Regions from separate parts of the Homo sapiens genome. Here region 1 is linked to region 2. The links come from fine-mapping of genetic effects on gene expression. A gene starts in region 2. The other region holds a variant in brackets. All regions are shown on one strand. Distances are between the middles of the regions. Region 1 has its middle 41 kb from the start of IL20RB-AS1. Region 2 holds the start of STAG1-DT (STAG1 divergent transcript).

Region 1 (15,629 bases), 270 kb after region 2:
CAACAACAACAACTACGTTAAAAAACAACCCCACAAAAACAAAAAAACAAAAACAAAAAAAACCCTGGTGGCCGGGCGCGGTGGCTCACGCCTGTAATTCCAGCACTTTGGGAGGCCGAGGCGGGTGGATCACCTTAGGTCAGGAGTTCGAGACCAGCCTGACTAACATGGTGAAACCCCGTCTCTACTAAAAATACAAAAATCAGCCGGATGTAGTGGCAGGCGCCTGTAATCCCAGCTACTCGGGAGACTGAGGCAGGAGAATCCCTTGAACCCGGGAGGCAGAGGTTGCAGTGAGCTGAGATCCCGCCATTGCACTCCAGCCTGGTCAACAGAGCGAGACTCCGTCTCAAACAAACAAACAAACAAAAAAACCATCCTGGCGTTTGGAGAAATGAGTGCCTGAACAAACCTCAGTAACTTCTAAATTTTGCCTCTGTACCTAAAACAGCTCCTCTAGGAAGTGGCCACATGCCTCCAAATTTCCTGGAGATGCCAGCCAGTCTTCTATGAAATTGCCTCAGTATAAGATTAGGCCTACAAAACATCATCTTGAGTTTCTGGCCCTAGGAGATCACAGCCCAGAAAGTAGGCCCCTCTGATGTCATCCCACCTGCATCAATCACGAGGACAAGCTTTCCCAGGTGAAATCATTTCATTGACATTAACTGCTCACTGTCTCACTTGAACTTTTTTTTTTTTTTTTTGAGATGGAGTCTTGCTCTGTCAACCAGGCTGGAGTGCAGTGGTGCTATCTTGGCTCACTGCAACCTCCGCTTCCCCGCTTCAAGCGATTCTACTGTCTCAGCCTCCTGGGTAGCTGGGATTACAGGCACCTGGCACCATGCCCAGCTAATTTTTGTATTTTTAGTAGAGACAGGGTTTCGCCGTGTTGGCCAGGCTGGTCTTGAACTCCTGACCTCAGGTGATCCGCCTGCCTCAGCCTCCCAAAGTGCTGGGATTACAGGCATGAGCCACTGCGCCCTGCCTCACTTGAACTTTTGAGTCTTGCAATTGGAAATAGATCAAAATGGAATAGTTTTCCCCTTTTCTTGGCCTCACCCCAGATCAGGCCTAGATTATGGAGGGCCAGTGAGGTGGAACGCTTACTGTGTGTTTTTGTTTTTGTTTTTGTTTTTAGACAGGGGTCTTGCTCTGTCACCCAGGCTGGAGTGCAGTGGCGTGATCTTAGCTCACTGCAACCTCCATCTCCCGGGTTCAAGCGTTTCTCCTGCCTCAGCCTCCCAAGTAGCTGGGATTACAGGCACCTGCCACCACACCTGGCTAGTTTTTGTATTTTTAGTAGAGACAACGTTTCCCAATGTTGCCCAGGCTGGTCTCGAACTCCTGGCTTCAAGTGATCTGCCCGCCTCGGCCTCCCAAAGTGCTGGGATTGCAGGCGTGAGCCACCGCCTGTGTTTTAAATGAAGAGTTTCAGTTTAGCTGATGGCAGCAAATAGAAGCTGAAATTTAAATACAAGTAACATTAAGTAACATCTCCCTCTGTTGCAACTTTGGGTTGACAAAGGCAAGGCTCAGGTTAAAGAACTGATAAAAACTTGGTCATGAGGTGTGGGTCTCATCATGTTGCTTAAAAACAAAAAGCCCAGCTTCCAGAGATGTGCATGGTGTTGATTGTGGCAGAGGGTATGAGAAAGTGGGGCCCACTCTTTTCTTTGGCTAATGACTCATTTAAAAACTCATTTGTCACCTAAAACATTTATTCCAAAATTGGGATTTTTAAATTAAATGCTATTTAAAACTTCAGAAAGGAATTAAAAACTTGATAATTGAAACAGGTGATATGTCAATTCACCTTTTAAATTCAAATAATATAGTTCAGAATAAATCATAAAATTTGGGAAGAATTTGGATTTCTTCACCAACACTAAATAGCTATTGCATAAGTGTGTGCTGTAATTGTAAACACTGGTGTATTTTACAAACTGGTTTTATTGGAATCCATGTAGTCTGAAAATTGTATGATTCTGTAAAAAAGTTTCCACTTGAACTTTCTGAGAACGGTTTAAAGGTGAAATAATCTGATACACTTCTCTGTCAATAAAAAATAAATCATGATATAATTGGACATATCTGCTCATGTGTTTTTTTTTTAGATGGAGTCTCTCTCTGTTGCACAGGCTGGAGTGTGGTGGCACCATCATGACTCACTGCAACCTCCATCTCCTGGGTTCAAGCAATTCTCCTGCCTCAGCCTCCAGAGTAGCTGGGATTACAGGTGCTTATGTATTTTTTTTTCTTTTTCTTTTTTTCATTATACTTTAAGTTCTAGGGTACATGTGCACAACGTGCAGGTCTGTTACATATGTATACATGTGCCATGTTGATGTGCTGCACCCAGTAACTCGTCATTTAACATTAGGTATATCTCCTAAAGCTATCCCTCCCCCCTTCCCCCACCCCACAACAGGCCCCCAGTGTGATGTTCTCCTTCTGTGTCCAAGTGTTCTCATTGTTCAATTCCCACCTATGAGTGAGAACATGTGGTGTTTGGTTTTTTGTCCTTGTGATAGCTTGCTGAGAATGATGGTTTCCAGCTTCATCCATGTCCCTACAAAGGACATGAACTCATCCTTTTTCATGGCTGCATAGTATTCCATGGTGTATATGTGCCACATTTTCTTAATCCAGTCTATCATTGATGGACATTTGGGTTGGTTCCAAGTCTTTGCTATTGTGAATAGTGCCTCAGTAAACATACGTGTACATGTGTCTTTATAGCAGCATGATTTATAATCTTTTGGGTATATACCCAGTAATGGGATTGCTGAGTCAAATGGTATTTCTAGTTCTAGATCCTTGAGGAATCGCCACACTGTCTTCCACAATGGTTGAACTAGTTTACAGTCCCACCAACAGTGTAAAAGTGTTCCTATTTCTCCACATCCTCTCCAGCACCTGTTGTTTCCTGACTTTTTAATGATTGCCATTCTAACTGGTATGAGATGGTATCTCATTGTGGTTTTGATTTGCATTTCTCTGATGACCAGTGATGATGAGCATTTTTTCACGTGTCTGTTGGCTGCATAAATGTCTTCTTTTGAGAAGTGTCTGTTCATATCCTTTGCCCACTTTTTGATGGGGTTATTTGTTTTTTTCTTGTAAATTTGTTTGAGTTCTTTGTAGATTCTGGATATTAGCCCTTTGTCAGATGGGTAGATTGCAAAAATTTTCTCCCGTTCTGTAGGTTGCCTGTTCACTCTGATGGTAGTTTCTTTTGCTGTGCAGAAGCTCTTTAGGTTAATTATATCCCATTTGTCAATTTTGGCTTATGTTGCCATTGCTTTTGGTGTTTTAGACATGAAGTCCTTGTCCATGCCTATGTCCTGAATGGTATTGCCTAGGTTTTCTTCTAGGGTTTTTATGGTTTTAGGTCTAACATTTAAGTCTTTAATCCGTCTTGAATTAATTTTTGTATAAGGTGTAAGGAAGGGATCCAGTTTCAGCTTTCTACATATGGCTAGCCAGTTTTCCCAGCACCATTTATTAAATAGGGAATCCTTTCCCCATTTCTTGTTTTTGTCAGGTTTGTCAAAGATCAGATGGTTATAGATGTGTGATATTATTTCTGAGGGCTCTGTTCTGTTCCTTGGTCTATATCTCTGTTTTGGTACCAGTACCATGCTGTTTCGGTTACTGTAGCCTTGTAGTATAGTTTGAATAGTGATGCCTCCAGCTTTATTCTTGCTTTGTTCTTTTGGCTTAGGATTGACTTGGCGATGCGGGCTCTTTTTTGATTCCATATGAACTTTAAAGTAGTTTTTTCCAGTTCTGTGAAGAAAGTCGTTGGTAGCTTGATGGGGGTGGCATTGAATCTATAAATTACCTTGGGTAGTATGGCCATTTTCATGATATTGATTCTTCCTATCCATGAGCATGGAATGTTCTTCCATTTGTTTGTATCCTCTTTTATTTCATTGAGCAGTGGTTTGTAGTTCTCCTTGAAGAGGTCCTTCACATCCCTTGTAAGTTGGATTCCTAGGTATTTTATTCTCTTTGAAGCAATTGTGAATGGGAGTTCACTCATGATTTGGCTCCCTGTTTGTCTGTTATTGGTGTATAAGAATGACTGTGATTTTTGCACATTGATTTTGTATCCTGAGACTTTGCTGAAGTTGCTTATCAGCTTAAGGAGATTTTGGGCTGAGACAATGGGGTTTTCTAGATATACAATCATGTCATCTGCAAACAGGGACAATTTGACTTCCTCTTTTCCTAATTGAATACCCTTTATTTCTTTCTCCTGCCTGATTGCCCTGGCCAGAACTTTCAACACTATGTTGAATAGGAGTGGTGAGAGAGGGCATCCCTGTCTTGTGCCAGTTTTCAGAGGGAATGCTTCCAGTTTTTGCCCATTCAGTATGATATTGGGTGTGGGTTTGTCATAAATAGCTCTTATTATTTTGAGATACATCCCATCAATACCTAATTTATTGAGAATTTTTAGCATGAAGGATTGTTGAATTTTGTCAAAGGCCTTTTCTGCATGTATTGAGATAATCATGTGGTTTTTGTCTTTCGTTCTGTTTATATGCTGGATTACGTTTATTGATTTGCGTATGTTGAACCAGCCTTGCATCCCAGGGATGAAGCTGAGTTGATCGTGGTGGATAAGCTTTTTGATGTGCTGCTGGATTCGGTTTGCCAGTATTTTATTGAGGATTTTTGCACTGATGTTCATCAGGGGTATTGGTCTAAAATTCTCTCTTTTCTTTTTATTGTGTCTCTGCCAGGCTTTGGTATCAGGATGATGCTGGCCTCATAAAATGAGTTAGGGATGCTTATGTATTTTTAATTTAAACTTTATTGAAGTATATCTGGTTGTATTGTTATGGCATTTTCATTTCACCTTGGGAAGTTTGAATTTTCTATAGAGTTAAGGTAGTTGGTAATTGTGTTTTCCAAAGACTTCTGAGAATTTGGAAATCTACACTCTATTGGTCTGTAATTAAAATAAGGATGACAGCAATATATATGAAGCAAAGTCTACATTTTTATTCATAAGTCAAAAGAGAGTTTGGGCCAAAATCTTAAGATACTGCATTTATAGCTACTATTCTTGGCTAATCATAAAGAATCTGATCCTCCTGTGAGAAAA[T/A]AAAAAACTTTGGTTCTGGGTCAAGAAACTACTGATTGGGAGAACCATTTTGATTTTTCACTGAAAATCTTGATGTAATAACACATACCTGATATATTAGGTTGGTAAGGGGGTGTAGAATATTATAAAAGGAGGGAGAGCCTATAGCTCATAAAAAGGAGCAAGATAAATTAAAAGCTTGGAAGATAAGAACAGAATTAAAAAGAAAAAGAAAAAAACAAACAAACTCCTAAACCTGTGAAAGTAACATGGGTTTGATAGATAAAATGTCAGGGGCAAAACTGGCTAATTCAGCCAGAAATCATGTGTGCCAATCTGGATTATACCCATGTATTAAACCATTGTAGATGGAGAAACACAACCGTCATGCAGAATATTGGCCACTGCGCTGCTGGAGGCTCCTCTATCACCTCACGGTAGGGAGGATCCCCTGTTTCCTGGTGGCTGCCAGTCACCCCCCTCTAGAGCTTTGGTCTGTCAGCTGTTCTGATGCCAGGGCTCTCAAACTGCAAACAAACGAGAACAGATGAGCCAAAGCTCTATACAGAGCCAAAGAGTCAGAGGTTATGAATGAGTTTAGAGCAAAGAGATTTTTAGCAAATCCTTAGTGGAATGCCGTCTAAAAATAAACAAAAAAGAACTATTAGAAAAGTTGAGCTGTATTTGATAATTGGAAAATTTGCATTAATGTTGTAATATTATTTTAGAACTAATTTTTCCAGACAAATAAGTGATCATTTATTTTGTTAGAAATCTAGACTTCTTAGCATAGGAGAAGAGGAACTACAATTGCAGAATCAAGAATTTGAGTAGGTGATGAATATTTCAATTACACTGATTTAATCTTTACCAGTGAGGTGAACGTATTAAATTATCACATGTACCCTGAAAATATGTACATCTATGACTTATCAATAAAAAATTAAAAAAAAATAAAACCAGAATGGCACTGATGTTTCAAACCAAGCAAAAAATACCTTAATGGAATTCATAAAACTAAAATTTCTAAAGAAAAACACTCTATCCCATAAATATGTACAATTATTATGTGTCAGCTAAAAATAAAAGAAAAAAGTAAAAAAATAATTTGATGAGGAACACTTTATTGTTAGAACTGGACTGAAAAAATCAAGATAAATTCAAGCTTTTAAAAGAACAAAAATAGTAAATTAAAAATACGTATCCTTTGTCTCTCTGTCTATTGAAATGCCCAGGAGCCATGTCACCTCACAATGCACTTTGGCACCCACATTCTGGTCTCTAATGCTCTTCTTACCAAAAGCGTCTTGGGAGGAATGGCATATTCCATACTTTGAGCTGGAAATTCAAGGAAATCCTAAACACTGAACAACAAGGCCAGAAATCAAGAAAGTTTGAATAAATTAGTAGAGTCAAAAGGACAGAGGAGCCATCTAAAAGGGGTTCTGCTGGCCAAAGTTGAGGCAACTTGAATGTCAAAAGGAGAGTATCGGCTGAAGCCAATGGGCATATGGTGGATTGGAGAAGCCATGAGTCCAAGATGATACATAAAAGGAGCAAAAGACTACGAGTAGTAAGAGAAAATGGAGAAAAAAACAGAGGATTTGTCAGCCAGGCGCGGTGGCTCACACCTGTAATCCCAGCACTTTGGGAGGCCGATGAGGGCAGATCACGACGTCAGGAGATCGAGACCATCTTGGTTAACACGGTGAAACCCCGTCTCTACTAAAAATACAAAAAATTAGCCGGGCGTGGTGGTGGGCTACCCGGGAGGCTGAGGCAGGAGAAAGGCGTGAACCTGGGAGGCAGAGCTTGTAGTGAGCCAAGATCACGCCACTGCACTCCAGCCTGGGCGACAGAGTGAGACTCTGTCTCAAAAAAAAAAAAAAAGAGGATCTGCCAAGTCATTTACATGTTGGCATGTTGGTATTATGTTGGTGTTAGTGATTCGTCTGTTGTGTAGATGAAGAAAACAAAAACTAGGAAACACAAATACATCAGTCAGAAGAAGTTGTATAGCTCAAGGGGAGTATGAGTGGAATGACCCTGTAAGTTGCGACTTTGAGTCACACAATGCCACATAAAATATCACAATTAAATTGGGAAACTGATTATACTCTTGCACTAGAAGGACCCATAACACTGATGCTTAGGAATTGAAGTTTGATGGATTCCGGCTGCTGGCTGGTGGTCAGTCCCCCTCATTTCTTAGTGCATGGGGATCGTTAAGTTAATAGTAAAAGTCCTGCTGAAAAAAAATTTTTCCACAACATTGATCAAAAAGAAAATTCTCTTTCAAGAAATAAATTAACTCAAACTTCATAATAAGCCTGTACAAAGCTGACAAACTGGGCAATAAGTGTCATTAATTCCAAGAGTATTTAAGTATTTAACTTCAGTCAGAGCACGAACACACTCACACACATACATACACACATACGTATACACACATACACACATACATATACACACATACACATACACACATACAAATACACACATACACATATACACACATTCACACTCATACATAAATACATACATATATAAATGTACACATATATAAACACACTTATACATCAATACACACATATACACACATGCAAGTATACACACACACACACATACACACGCACACTTTGAAATGCCCTGAAAACTTACAGTTCATATTGTTAACTTATTTAAAAAACGCCAAAATTTATAAATTTAGAAAAGGAGAGATCTTTTGGATCAACATGTAGAAATGAGATTCGGACTCAAAAAAAAGTTTTCAATAGGACTTTTCTAAATTTCTTATAAAAGGTTACAGCTTGCAAGGTGGCCATCCCACAGGCTGGAAAGCCTGCCTCTGGCCAAGACCAGAGACAGGCACTTTGAAGAAGGAGGGGTTGGGATAGGAGCTTTATGCTGAAAGGATTGGCTAAACACACATGTTCCACAGTTACAGGTTCAAGCGATTCTCCTGCCTCAGCCTCCTGAGTAGCTGGGATTACAGGTGCACCACTATGCCTGGCTAATTTTTTTGTATTTTTAGTACAGACCGGGTTTCACCATGTTGGCCAGGCTGGTCTCGAACTCCTGGCTTCAAGTGATCTGCCCGCCTCAGCCTCCCACAGTGCTGGGATTACAGGCTGCCCTGCATTCTTACTGCTATGCTGTTCCCTGTTCTTTCTCAGGGAAGAAGGTCCTCACTGATCCCCTTCCAACCCAGCCCCTGAGCTTCGTGACCTTCCCAGCTCCAGGTTTCCACCAGTAACCAGTTTCTGGATCTGGGCCCCTTGGTTCAAATTCTTTTGAAAGAGAATCTGTTTGAGCCAGCTCATGGGTTGATGTCTGTCCTGGGTCTAGATAATTTTGGCTTAGAGGGCAGGGCCAAAAGCAAAGGAGGATCTGAGGAACGGAGACAAGCCTGGTGGCTGCCACTATCCAGGCAAGGGCTCCCAGAGGGAGCATGGACAGACCTGTGGTCAGGGCCAGCTTCATGGCATGTGGCCAGTGCAGTTGCACTCTGAGCTCACAAGGCTCCCGCCCCCTTGGATTTTAGTGCTCTGTGGTTACTGTTTCGAAATTCTTAATTTTACCTTTGAATTTGTGTTTTGTAAGTGAAGTCCAATGGGACAATGCAGTGTGCCAGGGGCTTGGAGGCTCAGCTGACATGTGGGCCCACCTTGCACTGCCTCCTTGGCATGGGTTCTCAGCCACCCGCTCCCCTGCCCCTGGCTCCGTGTGTGACTGACCTCCTCTTCCCTGCCTCCACCCCAGGACCATTGCTGCTCTCCACCTCTGCAGGGGCCTAGGTGGGGGCTCAGAGACTGCTGGGTGCTCACACTTTGTGATGTCTTGGGGCATGGCATGGTGGTAGCTGTCTTTACTTCAGGCTGGCATTGCTATGATGTGTCTGCGCCTCTCCCTACCCCCTATCCAGGTACCAAGTGCATCTCAGCATGGAGGTTTAGAGATCCCTGGGGATCAGCCTTATGCTGTGTGTTGGGGCTGTGAGTCTGTGGGAAGTGGAGGCACCTGCTTGAGTTTTCCAGGCCCTACCCCCAGGTGAGACTAGGGGCACTGGCTGGCTGGTGGGAGGTGGAACCCACAGGCAGGCAGTGTGCATATGCATGTGCGCTGTGTCACAGGGTGGCCCTGTGCCTGGGGAATCCTCCCTTCCTCCTTCTTTTTATTTATTTTTTATTTTTTTTGAGACAGAGTCTCACTGTGTCACCCAGGCTGGAGTGTAGTGGCATCATCTTTGGCTCACTGCAACCTCTGCCTCCTGGGTTCATGCAATTCTCCTGCCTCAGCCTCCTGAGTAGCTGGGGCTACAGGCGCTTGCCACCACGCTCGGCTAATTTTTGTATTTGTAGAAGAGACAGTGTTTCACCATGTTGGCCAAGCTGGTCTTGAACTCCTGACCTCAGATGATCCACTGGCCTTCGCCTCCCAAAGTGCTGGGATTACAGGAGTGAGCCACCATGCCCAGTCCTCTCTTCCTCTTTCTATACTTCCCTGAGTCTGCCTTGGGTGTGCCTCTTCTGGCCAGCTCATGGCACCCTCTGGGGACAAGCCATGAAGGAAGAACTGTGCAATTTCGGTGATTCTGCACCAGCTAAATGCTCTGGTATTTGCATTTAAAATTGTCATTGCACACTATAAAATGAGCAGCAAAGAGACTGTACTAACAGTTTTAATTTTTTGACTTTTTTTCACTTAGAATACCATTAAACAGCAAATAATAATTAAAAAACCCACCATGACAATCCTAGAAAGAGATCACAAAAGAAAGGAAAAAGCTTTCCATGCACCTTTAATGACACTTTTTCTACTTCATGCATGAGGGGCCTCACAATGTACCTAGCTTGTGCTCAATGTGTGCAGCCAATGAAGGAAACGGAGGAGTCCAGGGCCGTGGGGCAAGGATGATGAGTTTGTGTTGGGATGTGTTGGGTTTGGGGTGCTGGATGTCTGGAAGGCTGTAGGTGTAGCAATCCCAGCACAGGTGATTAGCAGCATTTTATGCCGCTCAGAGAGGAGGCCCCTGGGTTTGGTAGGAGAGCTGTGTTAATAGTGGGCAGCTGCGTGTCCCACTGAGGAGTGGAGGGGTGGCAGCCCACTCCTTCCAAAAGCATGGATGCAGGAGGGAAGCACCAAGGAGAGCAAGTCAAGGTTGGCTGGAGTAGGGGATCTCAGCATGCTAGAGTCAACTGGGGAGCATTACAAAGGGCAGATGCCTGTGCCTCGCTCCGGATCATTTGAAGAAAAATCTCCTGGGGTGGGTGTGGTCATCTGCCATTCAAAAAATCACAAACACATACACAAACAAAAAGGCAATAAGAAATGGAAAACAGCTCTGGGTTGTGCAGAAGGATGGTGGGTTCCGAAGCATCAGGATGAGGCTGCTCTTGTTTAGAGATGCGTTTTGGTCCTGGTGTAGCTGGTTTCTTGCTGTGTGACCTTGGACAGTTCACTGTCACTTTTCTCACCCTTATTTTCTGTCCCAGTGAACAAGGAGCTTGGACCAGATTGTTGTGGAGGGGCACTGGGCTCTGACTGTCTGTGGGGACAGGGGTCTCTTTACCTGTCCATGCTGCAGGCCTTCCTTACTCCCCACAGCCCTGGTCTGCTGTGGGCCCAGCACCAGCCCTTCTCATCCTGCCCAGAAAAATGGACACTTCTCCATAAGAGCTGATGTAGTGGGGACCAGCTCAACATTCTGGAGAGTCACAGTGCCAGAGGAAGCGGAGCAGAGGGACTGGCAGTGTGGCTTCCAGACTCAAACTACCCATGTTCTGACTCGATCACTTAAAAGTTATGTGACCTTGGACAAATTCCTTGGCCTCTCTGAGCTTTGATTCCTCACCTGGAAAATGGAGCAAATAACAACATTTCCCACATTAGGATAGGGAGAGGATTAAATGAGACAAGCGTGCAATGTTCTTAGTGCTGTGGCGGGGGTACAGTCAGCACTCAGTGATTCCAGCCGACTGGAACTGACTGTAATCCAGCCTTGCTGCTTGGCCACTTGCTCTGCTTTCAGACAGGGTGATCTGTGGGTTCTGAGGCTTGTGGGCTACACTAGATGGGCTGCTTCCATGCCAGACTAATACAGTTCCCGAAACATCCAGGTTACCTCCTGGGGTGTAGACTCCCCATCTGCCCCAGTGAGCTGTGCCCAGGCCCCTCTTCTTGCCCCTCTTACCTGAATTGGCTGTTGGAGCTTCCAGGCTTGGGAAGCTCAAGCCAGGCTGGGTTGGTGGTGTAGCCATAGGAGAGAGCAGGAGCTTGTGAGCAGCACCACTGAGGCCCAGAGTCTTCTGAGCCCTTTAGGGCAGAAGGGAGAGTCTGGTCTATGTGATACCAGCATTTACACCTGAGATTCTTATCCAAAAGTCCTGTGTCCACAGTCAAGCCTCTGGGGTGAGAAGGAGGGCTTAGGGAGGCCTCTGGCATGGTGGCTTCTTAGAATATTGAGCCAGACTCTCCAACATCAGTTCTCTTGGAGAGGTGTCCACTCTTCTGGGCAAGACAGGCGAGAGAGGGAGGGATTCCTGCCAAAGCCACTAATAAACAAATTCCTCCCATCACTGAGTGAAGATGTTGCCACTTTGGAAATGGGCTTGTCCACTCTGTTGGAAGGCTGAGATGTCCTGGTGGCTGGGGCCTACATCTTGCTCAATAGTGTCTGAGACATGACTGGAAGACATCTGCTCAAGATGGTGGAGTGAGCACACATCAAACCCTCTCTGTAACTGCCTCGAAACCTGGAGGAATGATGGGGACACACACATACTCTTTCTTTCCCTCTCTCTCCGTACTAAGAATGAAGAGTAAACTTACAGGATAAGCTGGTTAAGAGTAGCCCAGGGGTAGAAGGAGTTGGATATACATAGGCTGGCTTTAAAGCTTATGTGAGAATGGGGATGAACATGCCTATGCTTGGCAGGAGACCCGACCCATGCTCCCTCCATGTAGCTGGGGTTGAAAACACTCCAGAAATGTGCTGCTTGCTCATGGTGCAGGAAGAAAAGGGCACTGATGTAAATATGAGAACCAGGCTGGTGCTGCACATGGGTGCTGCATCAGAAATATTTTTGGCTGAGAACCAACACCCCAAACTCTATAACATGAGACCTGCTCCTGGGTGTGCAAATCAGGAAGAAAGGGCTCAGGCAACCGCAAAAGCACCTAACGTGGAAGAGTCTGTCCATCAAAAAAGAATTCCCACGCAGAATGAGCTATAAAACAAAAATTGCAAAGGACATGTCAAAATTTATCATGAGGCATACTTCTCAGGCTTAAGAAGCAAAATTAATAACAGGAGAGGTGGAAATTATGAACCATTTGAAAGGATGATAATTAGTCTCACAGAAAGTCTCTCATCCTCCCTTAAAATTTGTCTAGTTGGGGGCAGTATTTCCCCTACCAGTGGATGACTTTCTGATCATTCCTGGGTAATAAAATGCTTGGTAGTCACATGAAACCATGGTTTCAATTCACGTTAAAATAGTCTATTCCCAGATAGGAAAATAGTCTGAACTTTTTTTTTTTTTTTTTTTTTTTTTTTTTTGAGACAGGGTCTTACTCTGTTGCCCAGACTGGAGTGCTGTGGCAGGATCACGACTCACTGCAGCCTTGACCTCCTGGGCTCAAGTGATTTATCCTGCCTCAACCTTCCAGCAGTTGGTACTACAGGTACGTGCCACTGCACCAGCTAAATTTTGTATTTCTTGTAGAGACAGGGTTTTGCCATGTTGCCTAGGCTGGTCTTGAGCTCCTGAGCGCAGGTGACCCACCTGCCTCAGCCTCCCAACGTGCTGGGATTACAGGCATGAGCCACCACACCCGGCCCACTTTAAACTCTTGTAAAAGATAAAGCCTCTTTGGTCTCTAGCAAGGAGCTTTCTTACTTCAGGGAGGGGTGTGGTCAGCTTCTCTTTTTTTCCTCCTCCTCCTTTATCTGTTGCTGTTGTGCACCCACCTGGGATTGGAGTTCCAGAAGGGGAGAGGGATTGCAGCACTGTTCACAAGAGCCAAGATTCAGAAGCAACCTGAGTGTCCATCAACAGACAAATGGATAAAGAAAATGCGGCACATACAGACAATGGAGTACTATCAACCATAAAAATGAGTGAGAGCCTGTCATTTGCAACAACATGGATGGAATTGGCGGTCATTATGTTAAGTGAAAGAAGCCAGGCACAGAAAGACAAACTTTGCATGTTCTCACTCGTCTGTGGGGACTAAAAATTAAAACAATTGAAGTCATGGAGATAGAGCATGGAAGGATGGTTACCAGAGGCTGAGGAGGGCAGTGAGAAAAAGTGGGGATGCTTAATGGGTACAAAAATAGAGTCAGATAGAATTAATAAGATCTAGTATGTGATAGCACAATGAGGTGACTACAAGTCAACAATAATTTATTGAATATTTTAAAATAACCAAAAGAGTATAATTGGAATGTTCATAACACAAAGAGATACATGCTTGAGGTGATGGAAACCCCATTGACCCTGATGTGGTTATTACACATTGTATGCTTGTATCAAAACATCTCATGTACCCCATAAATATATACACCTACTATGTATCCATAAAAATTAAAAGAAAAAAGAAAGGAAGAAGGGAACTGGGCTCAGGAAGGTCTTACTTGATTGGAACAGTTGAAGGCTGGTTTTGGCTCTCTGGGCCCTGTTGAGGTTTAAAGCTGATTCTTTCTCCTATGGGCACTTTTGTGAGTTTTTTGTAGGCATCCCTGCTGAAACTCAGACTGTCACTCCTATGATGTAGGCAACACATTTTTTTTAAAACTTTATTCCTTAGCCTCCGGTTTTCCTAGACGCCGCCTTCCACTCTGCATTGCAGGCTGTTTGGCTTCCTCAAGGTGAGCCAGGCTCCCACCTTCTTTCTTCCTTAGTGGCAGGGACACAAACCAAGCTGTCTGCATGGGACCCTAAGCTTGGGGCTAAGAGGTCATCTGCTCCATTCCACCCTTTCCCTGGGGCCATGAGACTCAGAGGGCTTCAACAGCTCTCTTCAAAGACATCCTCTTCACATGTCCTTGGAAATGTCTAACAACTCAGTCCTTTTCATATGCTTTCAAAAGGTGGCAGGCATGATTTTTAAATATGACTTTTAGTCTGGGTGTGGTGGCCCACACCTGTAATCCTAGCAGTTTTGGAAGCTGAGGCAGATGGATTGCTTGAGCCCACGAATTCGAGACCAGCCTGGACGACATGGCAGAACCTCATCTCTACAAAAAATTAAAAAATTAGCCAGGTGTGGTGACATTCACCTATAGTCCTAGCTACTCAGGTGGCTGAGTGGGGAGGATCACCCAAGCCTGGGAGGTCGAGGCTACAATAAGCTGTAATCACACCACTGCACTCCATCCTGGGAGACAGAGTGAGACCCTGTCTTAAAAAAATTAGTTTTAAGGTTAACATTATGTTACATACTGAAATGGTAAGGAGGGAACGGTGTCCTTGCAATGAGAGCAGGATATTATTAAACAAAAATAGGCAGTCATGAAATATATTGCTATTGGAAATAAAAAAAAGACTGCAACAGGCAGGATAGACAACCGGTGAAAATAGCTGGTGAAAGATAAGTGAATTAAAAGATAGAAATGCTGGGCGCATTGGCGCCTGTCTGTAATGGGCTCACAGTGCATTGAAAGGCCAGAAGTTTGAGACCAGCCTGAGCAACATAGTGACACCCCATCTCTTAAAAATAAAAAAAAAATTAGCTGAATGATGACATGTACCTGTAGTCCCAGCTACTTGGGAGGCTGAAGTGAGAGGATTTGCTTGGGCCCAGGAGTTTGAAGTTGCAATAAGCTATGATCGTACCACAGCACTCCAGCCTGGGTGACAGAGTAAGACTGTTTCTTTCTTTCTTTCTTCTTTTTTTTTTTTGAGATGGAGTTTCACTCTTGTCGCCCAGGCTGTAGTGCAGTGGTGCAATCTCAGCTCACCGCAACCTCTGCCTCCCGGGTTCAAGTGATTCTCCTGCCTCAGCCTCCTGAGTAGCTGGGATTACAGGCACCTGCCACCATTCATGGCTAATTTTGTATTTTTAGTAGGGACGGGGTTTCTCCATGTTGATCAGGCTGGTCTCGAACTCCTGACCTCAGGTGATCTGCCTGCCTCAGCCTCCCAAAGTGCTGGGACCACAGGCATGAGCCATCGCACCCAGCCCTGTTTCAAAGAGAGAGAGAGAGAGAGAAAATGTACATAAAACATAGCACCAAAAGATGAAGAAATGGAAAATATGAATAAGAAGTTGAGAGCCATGGGAGATAGATTGAGGAATTCCAACACACATCCAAGAAGAGTTTCTGAATAAGAAAAATAGTGAGAACAGGGGAATGAAAATGAAATGTTTGCAGAGGTAATGGTTGAAAATTTCCATAATCAAAATAAAATTCCATTTCAGGAAAGTGCACTGATTGTGATGGGGTAAAGTAAGTAAAGTAACAAAATACCCAAATAATTCCTTCTGAACACTACCATGACTCAGAGGGAACAGAAAAAAAAGA
Region 2 (15,629 bases):
CATTGCTATTATGTTTACAGCAAAATTCCATTGAAATTCTTGGACAACTAAATGGTACATCATTTTGGCCCATAGCACAAAGGAATGTATTTCATAAAGAAGGTAAGACATTCTCACATAACCCATAAATACATACACCTACTATGGACTCACAAAATTAAAAATAAATAAAAAACAAACGGGGGGCAGGGAAGAAGGCAAGATTTATGACATCCTTCACTACTGACTGGCAAAAAGGAGTAGCCATCCCCAACGTTTTTGGTACCAGGGACCAGGTTCGTGGAAAAAAATTTTTCCACGGATGGGGTGGGGAATCAGAAGGTTTCAGGATAAAACTGTTCCACCTCAGATCATCATGCATTAGATAAAGCACGCAACGTACATCCCTTGTATGTGCAGTTCACAATAGAATTTGCACTCATATGACAATCTAATGCTCCCACTGATCTGACAGGAGGTGGATGGAGCACAGGTGATAAAGCTAGCTCACCTGCCTCTCACCTCCTGCTGTGCAGCCCAGTTTCTACCAGGCCAAAGACCAGTATGGGTCCACAGCCCAGTGGTTGGGGACCCTTGATTTAGAACACAGGTATCCAATCTTTTGGCTTCCCTGGGCCACATTGGAAGAAGAATTGCTGTAGGCCATACATAAAATACACTAATGATAGCTAATAAGGTAAAAAACAAACAAACAAAACAAACCTCATAATGTTTTTAAAAAGTTTATGAAATTTGTGTTGAGCCACATTCAAAGCCATTCTGGGCTGCATGCAGCCCATGGGCCACAGGTTGGACAAGCTTGATTTAGAAAAGGAGGAGAAAAATCTGAGGGAAGCAATAAGGGGTATGTTATATAAAGAAAAGATTCTATAAAACCAACTGAATTATAAGACACTTTCAGCACTAAAAGGCAGGAAGCTGACTGTCCCCTTAACCACCAAAATAACAGAAAACTTCCTACAGACACAATTCTAATTCCTTCAAGAATCACCTCATTCTGTGGCTTATGCAAGAATATCATTTTAGCTCTCTGCTTCCTAGTTTTTCCCTACCACTCTAGCAAGAATCATCTAAATTCTAAAGATTTATATTTTTATTCAGTCAACAAAAATTTACCAAGCCCCTATTATATCATTTCTGTGTTAAAATATATCTCCCTAGCAATTTTAATTCCCAGTTATATCCTTTAAAGCAAGGGTGTCCAATCTTTTAGCTTCCCTGGGCCACACTGGAAGAATTCTCTTGGGTCACCTGTAAAATAAACTAATTATAAATGATGAGCTAAAAAAAAAAACTCACAATGTTTTAAGAAAGTGTATAAAATTGTGTTGGGCCACGGGTTGGACAAGCTTGCTTTAAAGCTTGATTATCCTTGGCTAACCTGTCTTAATTGCCTCTTCATGAAAATATTTTGCTTCTTGGACTGCTAAACCGTATGCCATGACTAAACTTCTGCTGCCTTCTTTGTTCCACCAATAATACCCCTACTCTGAGACTTGCAAATAACTATTCTCTTCATAAGAATTCTCTCCTCAGTCGGGCGCAGTGGCTCACTTTGGGAGGCCAAGGCAAGCAGACTGCCTGAGGTCAGGAGTTCGAGACCAGCCTGGCCTTAGGCAGGTGCTGAAACCCCGTCTCTACTAAAAATACAAAAATTAGCCAGGCAGCCAGGCACAGTGCCTCAAGCCTGTAATCCCAGCACTTTCGGAGGCCGAGGCAGGCGGATCACCTGAGGTCAGGAGTTCGAGACCAGCCTGACCAACATGGAAAAACACTGTCTCTACTAAAAATACAAAATTAGTTGGGTGTGGTGGCACATGCCTGTAATCCCAGCTACTCAGGAGGCTGAGGCAGAAGAATAACTTGGATCCAGGAGGCAGAGGTTGCAGTGAGCCGAGATTGCACCACTGCACTCCAGCCTGGGCAACAAGAGTGAAACTGTCTAAAAAAAAAAAAAAAAAAAAAAAAAAAAAATTAGCCGGGCATGGTGGTGCGTGCCTGCATTCCCAGCTACTCAGGAGGCTGGGGCAGGAGAATCACTTGAACCTGGGAAGCGAAGGTTGCAGTAAGCGAAGATCATGCCACTGCACTCCAGCCTGGGCGACAGAGCAAGACTCGTCCCAAAAAAAAAAAAAAAAGAATTCTCTCCTCAAAAGCTGCTAGACCAATCACACCACAGCAACTGTCTGACGCAATGATTGTGTGACTCTGCCACTTAAGAGGAGTGTGATCCAAGGCATTTAAATTCCTTAACTTCGGCCACACACACTGGCTCACGCCTGTAATCCCAGCACCTTGGGAGGCCAAGGCGGGCTGATTACTTGAGGCCAGTAGTTTGAGACCAGCCTAGGCAACATGGCAAAATCTCATCTCTATACAAAATACAAAAATTAGCCGGGCGTAGTGGCATGCACCTGTAGTCCCAGCTACTCCAGGCCCCACCTGAGCCTGGGGAGGTTGAGGCTGCAGTGAGTGAACTGTGACTGCACAACTGCACTCCAGCCTGAGTGACAGAGAGAGACCCTGTCTCAAAAAATAAAAAATAAATTCCTTAACTTCTCTGAGATTCAATATCATATCAAAAACAGGTAAAACAAAAGGCATCAAAGAATGGCAAGAATTACGTAATTTTTTTTTTTTTTTTGAGACGGAGTCTCACTCTGTCACCCAGGCTGGAGTGCAGGTGGCACAATCTCGGCTCACTGCAAGCTCCGCCTCCCGGGTTCACACCATTCTCCTGCCTCAGCCTCCCCGGTAGCTAGGACTACAGGTGCCCGCCACCACACCCAGCTGATTTTTTCTATTTTTAGTAGAGACAGGGTTTCACCGTGTTGCCAGGATGGTCTCGATCTCCTGACCTCGTGATCCACCCACCTTGGCCTCCCAAAGTGCTGGGATTACAGGCGTGAGCCACCGCGCCTGGCCAAGAATTATGTAATTTTTAAAAAATAAAAATAACTGGCCGGGCACGGTGGCTCATGCCTGTAATCCCAGCACTTTGGGAGGCCAAGGTGGACAGACGGTTTCAGGTCAAGAGTTTCAGGTCAAGAGACCAGCCTGGCCAACAAGGTGAAACACTGTCTCTACCAAATATATAAAAAATTAGCTAGGTGTACTGGCACATGCCTACAGTCCCAGCTACTCGGGAGGCTGAGGCACGCGAATCGCCTGAACCCAGGCGGTGGAGGTTGCAGTGAGCCTAGATCATGCCATTGCACTCTGGTCGGGGCACACTCAAAAAATAATAAATTTTTTTTTTTTTCCTGAGACGGGGTCTCACTCTGTCACCCAGGCTGGAGTGCAGTGGCGTGATCCCAGCTCACTGCAAGCTCCGCCTCCCAGGTTCAAGCAATTCTCCTGCCTCGGCCTCCTGAGTAGTAGGATTACAGGCAAGTGCTACCACGCCTGGCTAATTTTTGTATTTTTAGTATAGACAGGGTTTCACCATGTCGGCCACGGCCAAGCTGGTCTGAAACTCCTGACCTCAGGTGATCCACCCACCTCGGCCTCCCAAAGTGCTGGGATTACAGGTGTCAGCCACTGTACCAGGCCAATAATAGTAATTTTTTTAAATTTTTTAAAAAGGTGTTCTTAGTGGCAGAAATGAAAGAAAAAATAATTATACAAACTCCCTTCTCCCATTGCCTCCCTTCTTTATAACGTTTTAAATTTTCGTTTTTATTTTTAATTTCCTCTCAATGCAATAAAATTATTTCATAGAGGAAGGCATGTAAACTAAGGTACCAGGAAACGGGAAAGGAAAAAAGGTGAGGAAAAGGCAATATAAGTAAGAGTAAGCTGATCAAGTGGGGTTACTGCTCTGCCTAGGTCCTCTCCTTGTATGTCCGGAATCTGAAGAGGTAAATGTGAAGATACTTCTTTTCCTACGGCAGGCAAAATTCTTAAAAGCCTCCACTAACCCACACCCTTGTATCATGCCCTCCCCTTGAGTGTGGGAGAGACCTGTAGATATAACGGGATATCATTACGGTGATTATATGACAAAATATATGTTTGCATATGTAATTAAGGCCCTTAATCAGTTAAGTTTACCACAAGGGCCTCAGAGCTTAGCTGGTGAGCTTTTAAAAAAGACCTTAAAGGGGGGAGTCAGAGGTCAGACACACAGGAAATAGGGAGACTGACTCCTGCTAGCATGGATAAAAGCTAACAGCCATGTTGTGAACTATGTGGCCACACGGCAAGGATCTGAGAGCAGTCCTTGGCCAACAGCTAACAAGAAGATGGGGACTTCAGTCACACTATCACAAGGAAATTAATTGTGCCAACAAGTAGTGACCTTGAAAGACAACTCTGGCCGGGCACAGTGGCTCACAACTGTAATCCCAGCATTTTGGTAGGCTGAGGTGGGCAGATCACGAGGTGAAGAGATGGAGACCATCCTGGCCAACGTGGTGAAACCCCGTCTCCACTAAAAATATAAAAATTAGGTGGGCATGGTGGCACGCACTTGTAGACCCAGCTACTTGCGAGGCTGAGGCAGGAGAATCGCTTGAACCCAGGAGGCGGAGGTTGCAGTGAGCCGAGATCACACCACTGCACTCCAGCCTGGTGACAGAATGAGACTCCATCTCAAAAAAAAAAAAAAAGAAAAACAACTCTAAGCCTCAGATATGCACTGCAATCACAGCTGACACCCTGATTTTAGCCTGAGATGCTCAGCTATACCTCCCCAAACTTCTGACCTATGGAAGCTGAAATAATTGTTAATCTGTTAAGTGTGAAATTTGTTATGCATTAAAAAAAAAAAGAAAGAAACTAATATACCCCCCTAAATAAAGATATAAAGATACAGGACAAAACAACAAATAAAAGGGGAAACAAGAACGTATCTTTCCCAGAGTACATTATTTCTTCTCACAGCACTGAGATTATGAACATACACAGAGTCAGAATCAAGGAAAAAAAGATTAAAACTGTACAAAATTCTGTAAATTTTAAGTTACAGCAATTAAATGTGTGTTTTTCACAGACATCTTGTTACACAATCACCGTAAGATACTATCCCCATTTTATTTTATTTTTTTAAAGAGATGGAGTCTTGTATGTTGCCCAGGTAAGCCTCAAACTCCTGGGTTTAAGGGTTCCTCCTGCCTCACTACAGAGTAGCTGGAACTACAGGAGTGCACCACTGGGCCCAGCTCCCCATTTTTAGAGATAAAGAAAGTAAGGCTCAAAGGTAACACCCTGAACACCACAAACCCAGGGGACGTTCAAAGTAACTTCGGTCCAGGACCCACTCCTTCTCCCCTACACCATAGTGCCTTTAAGGCTTTAAAAGAGCCAATCAAATCTACAGTCATTTTATTAGTCTCTTCAAAGGAGGCAATCCTAGTAACACAACAAACTTCCATATTTTGCATCTATTTAAATATTCCTTAGCCTTATCAGAACATCGAAACTGAAGTGGATACAGAAAAATTTCCACTCAAAAGCAGTTCGTTTGTGAAAATGACCACTGGTAGATCACTTGAATTAATTTAGTTTACTCGAAGTACGTTTTAAATATGTAAAGGAAAATGCGTGGCAAAACACCTGTAGATCTTCTACAACTTTATTTGGGTAACAATTTGTCTTATAAGTATTCTTAATCATCAAAAGCAAGGAAATAACATTTCTGCTTCTTTCCATTCCATATTTCCCTACTTGGTTAAAATTTTTCAGTCTGAATTCCTCATACATTATGAATATTAGAACAAGGTACGTTACATTACCATACAATAAACAAGTTATTTTTATTTTCACTCTTCTGTATATTTCCCTAAGTGCTTCACCATCGGAATGTGCAATTTTCTTAAAACACGAGGAAAACTAAAATGTAGAGTCATTCAAATTCCAGATAAGTTACAAATCACACAACTTTGTGCCAATTCAGATACTTTCTCAAGTAAACACTATTTTTGCGAAGATGCAAGTCTTTCTAGTCAGAATCACGAGAATAAACTCTATCCATCTTAACACCAACTTTAACAGCAAATAATTTTTTTTTATGACAAATTGCGTTTTTTTTTTTTGTTTTTTTTTTGTCTGTAAGTGTCCAAAACTATCCTATGACTTATACTCCCGGAGCACGATTCCCTGCAATGTGAAGAGAATCGACAGATAACATTTCAAATGTGGGTAGATGGGGGTGACGTGACAATCCTAAAACCTGAAAATTTCTTAGTACCCATACCATACAAGAAGAACCCAGTTCGGACCCTGCAAACGGGGCTCAGGTCCAACTCCAAGCACTCTAGTTTCCCACCCCGCCCCCACCTCGAGAAAGGAGGGAAAACAACTTTTATTGGCCTCGTCTCTCAGGGGACTGGCAAACTAGCGGGGCAGTGCTTAGGCCTGGACACGTTTCACAAGGAGGCCCCCGTCGGGGGCTGAGAGGGCAGATAGCTGGAAAGCCCAGCATTGATGCATCTCCCCCAGCCGCCACCCCGCTGCCCCACCCCGCCAACAAGAAGCCTGGGCCAGCCGCCCCGCCGAGCGACCCCCCAGGCCCCTCCGCTGAAATGAACTCGTTGTCATGTGACGCCGCCGCCGCTAAAACACCGCAGAAACGCAGGTCGGCAGGCGGCGGAAGGCATTCGCGCCAGCCCGCGTCGGCCCGGCCCCGCTGGGCGCGGGCGACTCCCGAGAGCCCGGGCGGGGGGGGGCGGAGGGCGGGCTTGGCGGCGGGCCCGAGCGCGCCACAAAGGCTTCCGCGCCTGTCGCCGTAGTGCCCGGGCGGGCGGGGGCAAAATTTTTGGTGCCCGCGGGAGGGGTGGCAAGCGACGAAGACGCCGGGGTGCCCACCGCGCCCACAGACGTCTCTCCGGGCACTCGGACGGCCCACGACCGCCGCACCCCGCACAGGCCCGCGCGGCCTCCCTCCCCCGCACGGGGCCCGCGCCCGGCCCGCCCGCTCGCCGCTCGCGCTCTCTCGCTCTCGCCCGGCCTCCATCTTGGATCGGCGCTTCCAGCCCCCGCGCCGCTGCCGCCGCATTCCCCCTCTTTCCCGCCCCCCGCCGCCGTCGCCGCCGCCCGCACTCACCTCAGCTGCCCATCCGGGCGCCGCCGACCATCGACCTAGTTTCCCCCCAAAAGTCTCCGGTGTGTTATTCCCGATGTGGGGGGGTTGTTACGGGGTGGTCGCCGGGGGTTCGGGAGCGGGGGCCGCGCCTTCAACGGAGCTGCAATCCTAACCCGCCATCTGGTGGCATTTTCCACACGCCAATGGCGCCGCTGCAGACTTGGGTCCGGACCGCCCTCTGCTGGCCGCGGTGCTCACTGCCTTGCTGACGGGACGGGCCTGCCCGGAAAGGGGAGGGAGCTGAGGCGCGAGCTAGGGGCCGCGGCAGGGGCGCGCGCAAACGCTTTCCAGTGGGGATTGCGCGCACGCGCACCAGCGGGGCGGGAAACGTGGCCGCTGCGTGGCGGCCCCGCCCCCACACGGAGCGCTCGCGCAGTTCAGCCAATCGCGAGAGGCGTAGGCTTCTGGATAAGGGCGCTGTGGACGGTTCTTGGGCCGCCCGCGGCTGGCGGAAGGACGGCCACGGTGGCGCCTGCGCGTCCGGCTCGCCGAGTTGCCGCCCGCCATTTTTGGAGCTTCTTGGAGATCTAGGCAGGAACCCGCCCCGGGTTCCTTCACCGAGGCTCCTCCCTAGGTCTCAGGGCCGGCGCTTTCCTCTGTTCCCGCCCGGCTCCTGCTGCCCCCATCCGCAGCTCTCGAGACGCCCTGCGGAAACCCGAGGGTGAGGCCGCGCAGATCCCTGCTCCTACTTGGATTTAGCAAGGGCCTCAGAGCTTAGCATTGTATTCGCGATTTACGGCTGACAAGCGCTTTCACCAGGCAAGAGTGAAAAGGTTTCAAAAGGACTATTGGGGACTTCCCTCGCCATTAATCTAGACGAAACACCGCCGGCCCTAGGCCGATTGGCGTCATCCTGCCTCTGTAAAGCACATCTTTCCGTGGTGTCGGCTTTGCATAAGGCGGCAGCATTGGCTAGTTTGTGAGAGGAGAATATAACTAGACTGAGAAGATAGACTCAGCTGTGAAAGTGGATTTCTCCCTCCACAACCTAGGACTACTTTCAGTAGCTCTGAAATACACATGAGAATCTTAGCCTTCTAGATGCCAAAAGAGAAATAATCAGTAAGGTGAAATCATTAACAAACTATTTATGTTTAACGTCGCCTCTTCCCTGATCTCCACCTGCCCGTCCGTGGCCATGGATCCCTACCTTTCACCTGCTTACAACTTTTCACCACAAAAGTGAATCCTTACTCTCCTGGATCATTAGCCCCATATATGACTAACTTCTCTATCGCTATAGCCAACTCTATTTCAGTATGGAATCGCTCAACTACTTTATAGTCTTAAGGGCCTGTCTCCAGTAGGTTACCCCTATTTGTGTTTTCTCTCTCAAGGGTTTGCAAGATGTGTGGCTTTTCGCTGGAGGAAGTCATAACTGACCAGATTGGATATGAATTCGTGACTGGACTCCTACTTATAATTTTCTTGCGTTTTCTTCTAATCTCTGGCTGATCTCCTATTTTCCACAAAGACTGTTTCAAGCTTTCCATGTTGTTAAAGATGCCAGTCCCAGTCCATACTAATAGATAAATTCATCCAGTTTCCTGGGCTCAGAGCTATGGGACTCCAATTCCGGTTTGACCTTGCCTCCATTATAAAATATCTGTGACCACCTCCTGTTCGTGATCCCAAAACTTCTAACCAAATTAACCCAGAACCCTTCTCTCCAAAGCCACTCCCTCTGCCTGAAACTATGCCATCCCTTCCCACCTTCTCCTTCCACCACTACTTTCCTAGCGCCTTATAATGTAAATATGTTCTTATCCACTGTCTTCTTCCTTTCTGTTTCTCAGAAGTTTCTGTTGTCTTGGCTGGGTGCGGTGGCTCACACCTGTAATACCAGCACGTTGTGAGGCAGAGGCGGGCAGATAACATGAGGTCAGGAGTTCGAGACTACCCTGGCCAACATGGTGAAACCCTGTCTCTACTAAAAATACAAACAGCCAGGCGTGCTGGTGTGCGCCTGTAATGCCAGCTACTCGGGAGGCTGAGGCAGGAGAATCTCTCGAACCCGGGAGGTGAAGGTTGCAGTGAGCCGAGATCACGCCACTGCACTCCAGCTTGGGCGATAAGAGTGAGACTCTGTCTCAAAAAAAAAAAGTTTCTTTTGTCTTTTTTTTTTTTTTAATTCAGTGATGTTACTCCCTCCAGTTGCTATGCTATCAACGTTCCTTTCATTGACACATTCTCAAAAGAAACAGTTACGGTTTTCACCAATCCCCATCCCCTACTTGAAACCCTTTTTCCCTTTCTTTTAAGACACTTCCCCGGATCTACACCTACCTAGTTTGCTGGTCTTCTGATTTCTTTGCTAGCACCTCCTCTTTCTTCAATCTGTTCTCTACTACATGCCTTCTCTTAGGTCTCCCAAAATTAGTCTGTTCTTGATTTTTCCTTAACTGAGTTTCCTCGTGTTCAGCTACTTGCCAGAAAGCTGCAGCTCAAACACTTAAAATAATTCATCTCTCTTATTTGAATTTCCTAATTTATCCTAACATTGTAATTTCAGCTAGTGTAGTGATTAAGAACATGAACTGTGAAACCAGACTGCTCTGGAAAGCTTTGTAACCTTAGACAAATCTCTTTCTGTCTCAATTTCCTCAACTGCAAAATGGAAATAGCAACAGTACCAATCTCATAGGGTTGTTACGAGTGTTAAACTATTTAACTATTTAATATTTAAACTATTTAATATATTATAGAAATGCCATCAGCATTATTACATTTATTGTTTTTAATCTTACTAAGAAGTTTTTAGCATTTTTTTAACTCTGAGGGCATGGGTAATCAACTTTCTAAGTTTATAGAAATCTAAAATTGTATTTTGCCCTCACACTTAATAATTGATTATAAGTCATTTTTATAATCAATTTTATAAATTGTTTATAAATAATTACATAGCAGCCTAGGCTCTAAATTGTAGGGCCAGACTTGATTATTTTCTTTCAAAAAAGCCTAAGTCCCACCATACCTCATTCAGATGGCTTGCTTTTTTTTCTACTGCTGCCATCCTTATTCAAACCCTTCTCCCCTCCCATTGCCTTACACCAAAACTATTGCACTAGCCTTGTAAACACCTCTCCCTTCATTCACCTCCCTTTTGTTTGTGTTTGTTTGTTTGTTTTTGAGACAGGGTCTTGCCGTGTTGCCCAGGCTGGAGGGCAGTGGTGCAGTCATAGCTCACTGCAACCTCTGACTTGGGCTCAAGTGATTCTCACACCTCAGCCTTGCTAGGTCCAGAAGTAGGTGCCATTGACCCACCTTCCCTCTACTCCCCACTCCTGCTTCACTTCTCTTTTTAAAATGCAACATTGTTATACCTACACAAAAGCGTTCTGTGATTCCTATGGCTTAAAAGATATCATCTAAAATAGTTAATGACATTCAAGGCATGCCTTGATATTTTTTCATTTTTTTCTCTATTTCATTAGAAATTATTCACACTAGCTGACCTGTCTGATTAATCATAAATGTAAGTGAAGGGCAGATTTATTCATCCTTTACCTATCTGGTAAGATAAAGTAATAAAGGTCCCATAACATGTTGACTTTGTTACAGAATTACACATAAAAGCAGAGGCTGCTTTTAAGAAATTCTTCCCCACCCCCACCCTCCCTGGACAGAGTTTTGATCTTGTTGCCCAGGCTGGAGTGCAATGGCGCGATCTTGGCTCACCGCGGCCTCCAGGTTCAAGCGATTCTCCTGCCTCAGGCTCCAGACTAGCTGGGATTACAGGCATACTCCACCACGCCCAACTAATTTTATATTTTTAGTAGAGACGGGGTTTCACCACGTTGCCCGGGCTGGTCTCAACTCCCGACCTCAGGTGATCAGCCCACCTCGGCCTCCCAAAGTGCTGGGATCACAGGCGTGAGCCACTGCGCCTGGCCAATGAAATTCTTAATCAAGATTCCAATTCTCTTGGCAAGGATTTTCAAACATCACAATTTTTATTAACAGCTTCAAGTCATACATATGATCAAAATATTATTGAGGCACAGTAAAACGATTCCCCAAAATACAGCACTTCAGCATGCTCAATGCTTTGAAAATTGAACGGCCTCAGAACCAAGGTCTGTCTCTTACCTTTCCCTGTCTCCCTGATCCTCTTTCCCGAAGCACCAAGGGTACACTCTCTTTGGAATTTCCTTATCTGACCAAGAAAGCTTTTTTCCAAAAGAAAGGCAATGTTGGCAGGGCAGGGCATGGTGGCTCATGCCTGTAATCCTAGCATTTTGGGAGGCCGAGGCAGATGGATCACCCGGGGTCAGGAGTTTGAGACCTGCCTGGCCAACATGGTGAAACCCTGTTTCTACTAAAAAAACAAAAATTAGTTGAGCATGGTGGCGCATGCGTGTAGTCCCAGCTACTGGGGAGGCTGAGGCAGGGGAATAGCTTGAACCTGGGAGGCGGAGGTTGCAGTGAGCTGAGATTGCACCACTGTACTGCAGCCTGGGTGACAGAACGAGACTCTGTCTAAAAAAAAAAACAAATAAATAAAAAGAAGAAATGCAATGTTGTAAAACTCCCTCCCTAGTAATCTCATCAAACAACCAGGAAATATCAACCACTAGAGAATAGATTGACAGTCACTATGACCTGACAGACTTTTCATCTGTTCTTCTGAGGGCAGCCCCAAGGGATTACCTGGAGGACTTTCTCTGCATAATAAGACAATCTTTGTTCCTGTGCAGCTCTACACCTCACCTTCCCATTAATGTCTGCCTTCCACCTCCAAGGTCCATTTGTTCTCCCTAATGACTTGCTGTCACTCAAAAGAATTTCTACATTCTCCATCTCCCCCTTCCCTTATGAAAAAGGGTATATAAGTTTCTTTACCACACTAAATAATAGGTAATCACTCTGGATTATTCACACACACACGTTAATTTAAAAAGTTTGGTGTTTCTGAAACAGGATCTCACTCTGCCACCCAGACTAGAGTACAGTGGCACTATCACAGCTCACTGAAGCCTAAAAGTCCTGGGCTCAAGCGATCCGCCTCAGCTTCCCAAGTAGCTGGGACTACAGGCACACACCACCATGCCCACTAACTAAAAAAAAAAAAAATCTTTGTAGAGATGAGGTCTCACTGTGTTGTCCATGCTGGTCTCAAACTCCTGGACTCAAGCAATTCTCCCTAACTTGGCCTCCCAAGATGCTGAGATTACAGGTGTGAGCCACTGCGCCCAGCCTAATGTGACTGTCGTCAGTTAATTTTTCAGCAAACCTTCAGCAGAGGGAAAACTTCCCTTTGTTATTACATATAAAAGTTTTCCCTTCACCCCTACGATATGAAAAATAATGTAATTCTTCAGACACATGCCCATCAGAACTTTAATTCAACTCAATCTCTTAGCCAACCTGGTCCAAAAGTAGATATTTAATGTTATAAATAGAAAAAAAAATGCATTCTATAGCCTATGAAATGGGAAGACATTGAACAGGGGTTGCAATAGTTTAAAAGATTTTTATATAGTGTTGTTTTACTGGGAGCTTTAGATTGCTTTTCTTGTTTTCCTTGCAAATATACCAAATTGTGTTTCTGAAAATGCATTAGTTCTAATTAACATTTATTAACCAATAACATGAAGAACTTTGCTTTATAACCCAAAGAATGAGTTTCTGATTGTGTAGATTGCACAGTTTCTTTAAAATTTGGGCCAGACTTATGTCTTTTTCTCTCTGGATAATTTTAGCACACAAAAGATTTCAGTTATTCTATTGGCCTTACAGTTAGAGTAAGACACATTAAATCAACTTTTTTTGCGTGAGGATAATGGTGATATTTCTTACACAGAAAGGATTTTTAAAGTAAAATTTGGGCCGGGCGCGGTGGCTCATGCCTGTAATCCCAGCACTTTGGGAGGGCAAGGTGGGCAGATCACTTGAGGCCAGGAGTTTGAGACCAGCCTGGCCAACATGGTGAAACCCCATCTCTACTAAAACACAAAAATTAGCCGGGCGTGGTGGCGCACACCTGTAATCCCAGCTACTCGAGGGGCTGAGGCAGGTGGCAAGAGAATCGGTTAAACCCATGAGGCAGAGATTGCAGTGAGCCAAGATTGCGCCACTGCATTCCAGCCTGGCTGACAGAGTGAGACTCCGTCTCAAAAAAAAAAAGAAAAGTAAAATTTGATTCGTCATTCTTCCCTTTCCTTCCCCTTTTTCAGAGTTCCAAGTGCAACTGCTCGATATCTAGAGCAAAGAGAGGTCTTCTGATCAAGCTTCCTCACCCTTCATTTTTACCACCTCCACAAACCCTGTGTTTCAGGGATCATGACCACTGTCTCATCTTAATCTCCCCCAAATCAAGTATTCCTTTGCATTTTTCACTTGGTCACAAGGCATTTGTTCTTTCTTACGTTGGTAGACCTTTGCAATTATCAGAAATAATTTTCCCTTCTTTTCTACTCTTGCAATTAAGGTGTGCTGCCAATTGGTGGCAGTAATATGCCATGGTGTCCTCCCTACTGGATTTAAACCATTATTTTTCCTTTTTTTTTTTAATTTTTTTTCTTTTTGGAGACAGAGTCTCACTCTATTGCCCATGCTGGAGTGCAATGGCGCGATCTCAGCAAACTGCAACCTCCGCCTCCTGGGTTCAAGCAGTTCTCCTGCTTCAGCCTCCCGAATAGCTGAGATTACAGGTGACTGCCACCATGCCCGGCTAATTTTTGTATTTTTAGTAGAGACAGGGCTTCACCATGTTGGCCAGGCTGGTCTCAAACTCCTGACCTTAGGTGATCCGCCTGCCTCGGCCTCCCAAAGTGCTTGAATTACAGGCGTGAGCCACCGCGCCCAGCCTAAAAACACTATTCTTTCTACAACTGAGCAAGCAGCCAGGCCCAGTGACTCACACCTGTAATCACAGCACTTTAGGAGGTTGAGGCAGTCAGATCTTTTGAGGCCAGAAGTTCAAGACCAATCTGGGCAACATAGGGAGACCCCATCTGTATAAAAAATAAAAAATTAGCTGGGCAGGATGGCGCACACCTGTAGTCCCAGCTACTTGTGAGACTGAGATGGGAGGATCACTTAAGTGAGCCATGATCATGCCACTGCACTCCAGCCTGGGTGACACAGCAAGACCCTTTCTCAGATAGGCAGACAGACAGATGTATAACTAAATCAATAAATTCTGCCCCGTTCTTGGTAATAAGATGGTAAGAGGGATCCAGAATACCTTCCCTTTCAGAATCAGTAACCTGGTTATAGGCAAAACTCTATTCTCAAAAAGCAGAGGATCGGAATTGCTCAGATATTTTTTTAAAAAGAAATTTTGGCCAGGCGCGGTGGCTCACGCCTGTAATCCTTACCCAGAACTTTGAGAGGCCAAGGCGGTGCGGATCACAAGGTCAGGAGATCGAGACCGTCCTGGCTAACACGGTGAAACCCCGTCTCCACTAAAAATACAAAAAATTAGCTGGGCGTGGTGGCAGGCTCCTGTAGTCCCAAATACTTGGGAGGCTGAGGCAGGAGAATGGTGTGAACCCGGGAGGCGGAGCTTGCAGTGAGCCGAGATCATGCCACTGCACTCCGGGCTGGGTGACAGAGCGAGACTCCATCTCAAAAAAAAAAAAAAAAAAAACTCACAGGCAGAGGGCTGGAACTAGTGTGGGTAGGAGCTAAGAGTTATTATTATTTAGAGACTCAAGTGCCAGTAGAACAACCGTTTTCTTAGTCCAAGTTTCTTGATGTCCTTGGGATTCCACTTTATGGCTTATTTCAAAAGACCTGTATGAGGCCTGGACTACTTTGAGGAATCATCCTTTTTTTTTTTTTTTTAAAGTCGGAATCTTGCTGTGTTACCCAAACTGGAGTGCAGTGGCATGATCTTGGCTCACTGCAACCTCCGCCTCCCGGGTTCAAGCGATTATCCTGTCTCAGCCTCCCAAGTAGCTAGCATTACAGGTGCACACAACCACACCCAGCTAATTTTTGTATGTTTAGTAGAGACAGGGTTTCACCATATTGGCCAGGCTGGTCTCAAACTCCTAACCTCAGGTGATCTGCTGGCGTCGGCCTCCCAAAGTGTTGGGATTAGAGGCGTGAGCCACTGCACCCCGGCCTGGGAATCATTCTTGATAGAATAGCTATCTAAAACATTGTTTCCATATAGGCAGAAAAACCAGCCTCTAATTTTATTTTCTGTAAAAGAAATGCACAATGGCAACAAATTAAAGGATACAAAATAAATTGTAACATATCAAACAGGACAAAAAAACATAACGTTGAAAAGCAACCAAGCTTCATCCTAACTCTACCGCCAGGGCCACTGCCCAAGGACAACATCTTTTACATGTTTTTGTTTGTTTGGAATTACTTCAATATTTCTAAATATGCTCATTCAACTTTAAATAAAATCTAATGACTCCCTGCTACAAAGGATAAAGATTATGTTAATACCCACTGGTCCAATATTTAACAGTTGCATTAAGTTTGCGTCTTTTGTTGGTTTTCTTTGTAACTTTTTTTTTTTTTTTCCTTTTTGGAGACACGGTCTCCCTCTGTTGCCCAGGCTGGAGTACAGTGGCATGAT

The links.
Region 1: its variant is fine-mapped to the expression of STAG1-DT in putamen (GTEx, PIP above 0.99).

What each region holds. Positions count from the first base shown.
Region 1 is chr3:137,014,928-137,030,556 of GRCh38, forward strand. No RefSeq gene overlaps it. Among named protein-coding and RNA genes, the nearest start is that of IL20RB-AS1, 41 kb to the left of the region's middle. RefSeq lists an enhancer at 8,141-8,641 and a silencer at 12,957-13,157. The variant T/A (reference allele first, on the strand shown) is at 5,120.
Region 2 is chr3:136,745,150-136,760,778 of GRCh38, forward strand. It overlaps STAG1-DT (STAG1 divergent transcript), which reads left to right and starts at 7,522. Exons shown (of 1, transcript NR_185911.1): 1 at 7,522-10,691. It overlaps STAG1 (STAG1 cohesin complex component), which reads right to left and starts at 7,229. Exons shown (of 34, transcript NM_005862.3): 1 at 7,046-7,229. RefSeq lists silencers at 6,553-6,932, 7,253-7,482 and enhancers at 6,674-7,605, 7,493-7,812, 7,606-8,537.